2 linked regions of the Homo sapiens genome follow. The protein of the gene in region 1 interacts with the protein of each later gene in a biochemical or structural test. Each region holds a gene or a part of one and is shown on either strand. Other genes may lie near its edges.

Evidence for each region. The genes of interacting proteins can lie anywhere in the genome.
Region 2: the proteins of KPNB1 (region 1) and NUP153 form a complex in vitro, tested with the Homo sapiens proteins (4 studies listed by BioGRID and IntAct, with this or other methods).

The regions. Positions count from the first base shown.
Region 1 is NC_000017.11:47,648,178-47,651,777, forward strand, and holds the start of KPNB1 (importin subunit beta-1), read left to right. Parts: upstream 1-1,741; 5' UTR 1,742-2,067; coding exon 2,068-2,107; intron 2,108-2,208; coding exon 2,209-2,267; intron 2,268-2,887; exon of another isoform or gene 2,888-3,199; intron 3,200-3,600.
Region 2 is NC_000006.12:17,630,122-17,633,944, forward strand, and holds part of NUP153 (nuclear pore complex protein Nup153), read right to left. Parts: intron 2,724-3,823; coding exon 2,529-2,723; intron 1-2,528. UniProt on the Homo sapiens protein: Component of the nuclear pore complex (NPC), a complex required for the trafficking across the nuclear envelope. Functions as a scaffolding element in the nuclear phase of the NPC essential for normal nucleocytoplasmic transport of proteins and mRNAs.

The sequences.
Region 1 (3,600 bases):
CAGACTGGTCTTGAACTCCTGACCTCAAGTGATCCGCCCGCCTCGGCCTCCCAAAGTGCTGGGATTACAGGCATGAGCCACCGCGCCCGGCCCTATTATTACACTTTTCCTTTATCATTTTAAAAATCTTCATTTTTTTTAAAAGAGACAGGATCTCGCTAAGTTGTCCAGGTTAGTCTTGAACCCCTGGGCTCAAGCGATCCTCCCAAAGTCCTGGGATTGCAGGCCTGAGCCACATACTGTATGCACATTTTTTTTCTTTTCTTTGAGATGGAGTCTCGCTCTGTCGCCAGGCTGGACTGCAGTGGCGCGATATCGGCTCACTGCAACCTCTGCGTCCAGGGTTCAAGCGATTCTCCTGCCTCAGCCTCAGGAATAGCTTGGACTTCAGGTACGCGCCACCACACCGGGCTAATTTTTTATATTTTAGTAGAGACGGGGTTTCACCATGTTGGCCAGGATGGTCTCGATCTCTTGACTCGTCATCCGCCCCCCTCGGCCTCCCAAAGTGCTGGGATTACAGGCGCGAGCCACAGCGCCCGGCCCACGTTTTCTTTATATGCATTTTGCTAAGAAAAGGCATTCATGAGTTTCTTCCGGGGTTGAGAACTGAAACAGGTTAAGAACCACAATCCTTTATTCCTGTACACACATTCTTTCTGGTTCGAGGTTGGGCCTTTACAGGGTACTTTTGGAGGGTGAAACATTTCCATCCTGTCAAGTACCTGGTAGCTATGGATGGGGGGTCTAAGAGGAGGAATCCCTTAGCTCACCCCTAAGCAAGTCAGATTTATCACAGCACAGGTCTCAAGCCCCATATAAGCAGGCTTAGGGGACTCCTTGGAGAGGAAGCTGCTTGTAGGGACAAGGGCCGTCAGGAGAGCTTGAGCTTATCAAGCCACTAACCAGCTGTGTGACCTTGGACAAGTTCCAGACCCTCTCTGGGCTCCTGAACCCATTCCTTACCAAGCCATTAACCAGCTGTGTGACCTTGGACAAGTTCCATACCCTCTCTGGGCTTCAGTTTCCACATCTACACATTGGCAGTGGAGCCACATGGCCTTACGGATCCCTCCCAGCCGAAAGCAGGGTACCAAGCCGACCTAGCCATTAAAGCAGCTTCCTGTGGGCGCGGCGCAGGACTTCAACAGTCCCCCCTCCCCCGCTCAGGCCCGCGAAAACCTCGCGCAACACGCCCCTCGGAGCGACGGCGCTTACCCAACCGCAGCCCCAGCGCTCGAACCCAGCTCCGCCTCTTCCCGGGGGCGTCCCATCGTGCCCCGCGCCGGGCTCCTAGGGTTGCCGGGCACCTCCCGCCTTCCCGCGCCCCGACCCCGAACTCCTCTCCTTAGTTCTCCCGGGCACCCTATCCTATCAACGCCTACTATCCCAGCCAATCGCGCAGGATCCGAGTCGTGCCTCCGGTCCACCCTCCTCCCAGCGCTCAGCCGGTCTGAGCTCAAGGCCTTTACCAAGCCCACCCAATCAACGGCGGGCTCTCTCCTACCCCATCCCAATCTCCCTCCCCTCGGCCAATCCGCGCGCTCCATTCCGCTGCCCGCCCAGCCAACCCGGGCCTTGAAACCAGCAGGCGAATGGGCGCGAGACGGCCCTTCGACGCTGAGCGCCTGGCCAGTTAGGGATTCCGCGTGGCCAGGACAACGGCCAATCGTCGTGGAGCGCGGCGCCTCCGCGGAGAGGTCCGGTCCGAATATCCCTCCGCCTTCCTCCCTCCCTCGCTCCCTCCCTGCGCGCCGCCTCTCACTCACAGCCTCCCTTCCTTCTTTCTCCCTCCGCCTCCCGAGCACCAGCGCGCTCTGAGCTGCCCCCAGGGTCCCTCCCCCGCCGCCAGCAGCCCATTTGGAGGGAGGAAGTAAGGGAAGAGGAGAGGAAGGGGAGCCGGACCGACTACCCAGACAGAGCCGGTGAATGGGTTTGTGGTGACCCCCGCCCCCCACCCCACCCTCCCTTCCCACCCGACCCCCAACCCCCATCCCCAGTTCGAGCCGCCGCCCGAAAGGCCGGGCCGTCGTCTTAGGAGGAGTCGCCGCCGCCGCCACCTCCGCCATGGAGCTGATCACCATTCTCGAGAAGACCGTGTCTCCCGGTAGGACGCAGGAGCCGGGGGTAGGGCTGAGGTGATTGGGGTGGGGGAGGGGAGGCCCGGCCCCTCTGACCCCGCTCCGTCTCCCACTTTCCTCCCCCTAGATCGGCTGGAGCTGGAAGCGGCGCAGAAGTTCCTGGAGCGTGCGGCCGTGGAGAACCTGGTGCGTGCTACCCCGCCGCGCCCATCCCGCCGCGTCCCCATCCCCTGCGTGCGGGGCCTTCCCGCCCTCCCGGAGGCCCAGGCCTCGGGAACCTACCCCGCCCCATCCCGTCCCCCTCCCCCCTCCCCCTCCCCCCCCAACCCGGTCCAACCTAACCCCGCCATCGGGAAGCCGGTGGGTGTGTCCCGCCCCGGGCCTCGCGACTGGCCAATGGCTTGGCGCGCCGAGCTGCCTGCCGCCCAATCGTTGCGCGGCCTGAGGGCGGCGGTGCAGCGGGAGGGAGAAAGAGGGAGGGAAGGGAAGTTAGGTTGCGCGGCGCTGCGTGTTCAGCAGGGGTGGGGGCGGGGGAGTCGGGCCTAGGGGCCATGTGGAAGCTCCGGGCCCGGCCGCCCGCCCTGTCTGACCCCGGCCGGCTTCTCCTTCCTATCCCGTGGCCCCTGTGGCTCTCCCCACCTATTTCCTAGAGCTCTGCCCTTTCCTAGCTACCTTGGTCTGTACTCATGGCCAGGCCTGGCACCCGACTGCCTCTTAACCCATTTCCACTGATATTTTTCCCTCTTTGCTCGGTTATTCCTCTCTTGGGGTTTTTTCTTTTTCTTTCTTTCTTTTTTTTTTTTCTTCTGACCTGGATGAATAGAGACCTAATCACTAGGGATCTGCACCCAGAAAACAGACTGAGGCTCATCTTTGAGATGGGGCCTGTTTGCTGATGAAATCACAGGGGAAAGTTCCTCGTTTTTCATATTTTAAAATTTAAGGGGTCCGGAGAAAATGAAGCTAAGTCCGCTAGAGACTGGTCCTTTGTATAAAAATGTGGGATGGATTGGTTGAAACAGCCTAGATGCCAGTTAAGTTTCTCTTTGGTGTCCATCTCCTGTTGGGGGATGGGGTCAGAGGGAAGGATTGGATGATGCTTGACATCTTTGAGAAAGGTAATAGGAATTAAGTCTGAGTAACACTAACCATATGTGTTCCTTTGTGTTATATAGGCAAAATGTCAACATCAACAAAGTGACAAGGCTTATTTTATACAGACTGCCTTTGAATGATTTTTTTGTTGTTTTTCATATGTGCCAATTTTTACAACTAACCTGTTTATCCTTTCCTAGAAGAGATTTTTCCACTAGTATAGGCTGATAATTCCATTTAGGGTATTATTCCTGTTTCTGCTTTTGCAAATTTTGCAAAAAGCTTTTTATCTTATTCCTAACATTCTTAACATTCTTTAGTGGTACATAATTAATAAAACTTTTAAGAATTATCTTCTGCTGTGATTGCAGAGCTTGTTAGCAGTAAGAAAAATGTGTCTGCTTTTGACTTTTCCTGCTAACTT
Region 2 (3,823 bases), on another chromosome or scaffold:
GGGTATGTATGTTTGCCTTGGATGGGCATAAAGAAACTTTGAAAGATTTACAAGAAACTAACCACAGTTACATTTGGAAGTGGGAGGGAAGGTGGAAAAAGAGACAATGGAGAGAAGAGATTGAACCTTGTCACAATTTCTTGATTTTTAAATCTTGTGAATAAATGTGTTATTCACTCAAGCATTTAAAAAAGGAAGGCAACAGAAAAACAGAAGAATTACAGAGTTGAAGCAATGTTTATAAAGTTAAACATCAGACTGGGCGTGGTAGCTCACGCTTGGAATCCCAGCACTTTGGGAGGCCAAGGCGGGCAGATCACCCGAGGTCAGGAGTTCAAGACCAGCCTGGCCAACATGGCGAAACCCCATCTCTACTAAAAATACAAAAAAAATCAGCCAGGCATGGTGGTCTGTGCCTGTAGTCTCAGCTGCTTGAGAGGCTGAGGCAGGAGAATTGCTTGAGCCCGGGAGGTAGAAGTTGCAGTGAGCCAAGATTGCGCCACAGCACTCCAGCCCGGTCAACAGTGAGACTCCACTTCAAAATAAATAAAGAAAAGAAAACAGAGGAGAGCAGAGGAGACGGGAGACGAGAGGGGAGGGGAGACAAGAGGGGAGAGGGGAGGGGAGAAGGGAGGGGAGAGGGGAGAGGGGAGAGGAGAGAAGAGAGAAGACAGGAGAGAAGAGAGAGGAGAGAAGAGAAAAGAGAAGAGAGCAAGCATTATACTGACAAGATCAAAGTCTTGGTTTCATAATGCTTTTCTGCAGCTAAGGAAATCAGAAATGAAGTACTTGACCTACTGGCTCAAAACAAGGATCATTAAGAAGTACTAAGATACTTAAAAGTATGGTGATTACCACACTACAGGTAGAGAACAGTATAAAAAGGGGAGCATGAATTAACAGCTACAGAAAGAGATAAAATGAACCAGAAAGCACAAACTTCTAAAACACTTAAATGCAGTGTTTTTCAAACTGCTAGTTGTATACCATTAATCATCAATTAATTTAGCAGGCTGCAACCAGCACTTCTCTTTTAAAATAAAATAAAACAGAAAATACCAGGGAACCTTACACCTACCAGAGGCAAGTATTATTTTGCAAAACAGATTTCAATCATATAGACATATACGCTGTGCAGGTGATGGCTCACAATATAAAAGGTTTATTCCTGACTTTTGGTTTGCAATCAAGAGTTTGAAAGCTAATTACAAAGTAGATAAAGCTTGCTATTATTTTTGTTTAATTTGTATAAATTTAAGGATTACCAGTGCAATTTTGTTACATGGATATGTTGCCTGGCAGTGAAGTTTGGGCTTTTAGTATATTCATCACCCAAATAATGTACATTGTGCCCATTAATTAATTTCTCATCATCTACCCCCCATCCCATCCTCTCACCGTTCTAGGGGTCTACACTCTGTCCACTGAGTACACTTTATTTAGCTACAACTTATAAGTAAGAAGATGAAATATCTGTCTGAGTTGTTTCAAGACATTAATCCTCACACATTTTCTCCTTGCGGGCTTACTCTTTTACAGAAGACTTGAAAAATCTGGCCTCCAGACCAGGCGTGTTGGCTCACGCCTGTAATCCCAGCACTTTGGGAGGCCGAGGCGGGTGGATCACGAAGTCAGGAGATTGAGACCATCCTGGCTAACATGGTGAAACCCCCGTCTCTACTAAAAACACAAAAAATTAGCTAGGCGTGGTGGCAGGTTCCTGTAGTCCCAGCTACTCGGGAGGCTGAAGCAGGAGAATGGCATGAACCCAGGAGGCGGAGCTTGCAGTGAGCAGAGATCGGCCACTGCACTCCGGCCTGGGCGACAGAGCAAGACACCATCTCAAAAAAAACACAAAAATCTGGCCTCCAGTTAGTTTAGGATTAATTACTTTGAGGGAGTCTTCCTTTGTACTTATATAGTAAAATATTAAGAGTTCTTTTCCTGGGACCTACTTTGGGAAACCAAAGCCACAGCCTGTATCGCTTTTAATTTAGAGGTGTATTCCCAGTCAAATAAAAGTCAGTAAGTTCATCTGGGCGCGGTGGCTCACACCTGTAATCCCAGCTACTTGGGAGGCTGAGGCAGGGAATTGCTTGAACCTGGGAGGCGGAGATTGCAGTGAGCAGAGATCGCGCCCCCGTACTCCAGCCTGGGCAAAAGAACAAAACTGTCTCAAAAACAAACAAACAAACAAACAAAAAAACAAACAAACAAAAAAACAAAGAACAGTTCACCTAGGGGGCTAGCAGTTAAAAACAAAAAACAAAAACTCTCTGAGGCTCAATGACACAAGAAATTTTTTTTCCCACCTGGAGAAAAGATACCTCACTGTTGACAAGCAACTAATATGACCTTACAATATTCAGAAACAGATATAACTAAAACATCTCAGGATAATCTCATTTTATATTAATTTTCAAGAGAGAATGAGTGAACACTGAAGCTGTTCTCAAATACTTCATTTTTAAATGGCCTTACAAAAAGGCGCTTTACCATCACCTTTATTTTTATTTTTTTGGCCTTACCTTTAAACCCAGATTTTGTGCCTGGCTTTGCACTTTCACATGCCAAACATTTGGTAGAGTCTGCCTTATTCTGCACTAGGCACAATTCACAGTCCCAGCTTCCCTCGGGTTTCTTGAACTTTTCCAATCCTAGAGAGCCTCCAGAAGGCAGAGAGACAGGTACAGTGCTGCTACTTGAAGCAGGTACTGAACTTCCTAAAAAAAAAAAAAAAAACGGGGAGTGGGGGGAGATTTCATGAAAATTTTAATTTACAGTATGTCAGTATCTTAATGGCACTGCTAAGTTTAAGTGTTCAGTTTCTAATAATATTTCCTATTAAAACACAGAATGTGCCAGAAATAGACAACTGTTCATATTTACATTGTTTAAAAAAAAGAATAGACCTCTCTTTTAACCTTATAAATGATTTCTTTTAACCTTATAAATGAGCAGCTCATAATCACCTTGCTCACTGGTGAGCTCCCCCTTAACCACATGTTTGAACTGCTGTGGTTTAAGAAAAAAAATCATGCTCGCAAATTAGGGGCTCAAAGACTAAATTTTTCTTAAGAATCTTTTTCAAATTTCTTCAAAGCAGCAAGCATTCTAAGACATAAGATGTAAATTGTAGGCAATATCCTAACATATAAAATACACAGCCACAGACCATATGAATTTCAAGATTTGAAAGCATAGATCTCTGCCTCTGAATGATAGCTTTTGCACAGAAGTGCATCTACTTCACATCCACTTCACAATCTAACTTGACACCTACTACATTCCTGACATTTGTTACATGCTAGCCATTTAACAGACATTTATTAAGCATCATAATATACTTGGGTTCTGGGGACATTAAAGATGAATAAAATGTTGCTTAACTTGTAAGATGCTCATGGTCTTAAAGGGGGAAAATAAAAGCACAGTGGCACCATCACCAAGTGACAACCTAAAACAAGTGTGCAAAGAAGGAAGAAATGACTAAGAGGCAGGAAAAGGATACACAGAGGTGACAAATCTTAAGCAAAACTAGCATGTTTGTGGGAGAGGTGGCACAGGAAGAACGGCTTGGTAAGGCCCAAAATATAGTGCTGACAGTGAAGCCATTCATTCTGGTATTCCTACTTCTCTAGATGGCCTACAACTGTCGCCACCTCTTCCATAGTTACCTAACTGATCTCTACATTTTATAGGTATGTTCTCTTCCATCTTGCCAACCAAATTGCTCCCTGGGGTTCCATCTTGGCCCACTGTCCTCACAAACTCTCATTTACTCCAGTGGTTTTTAAATCCCCAAAAAACAGTTTCCTAATCT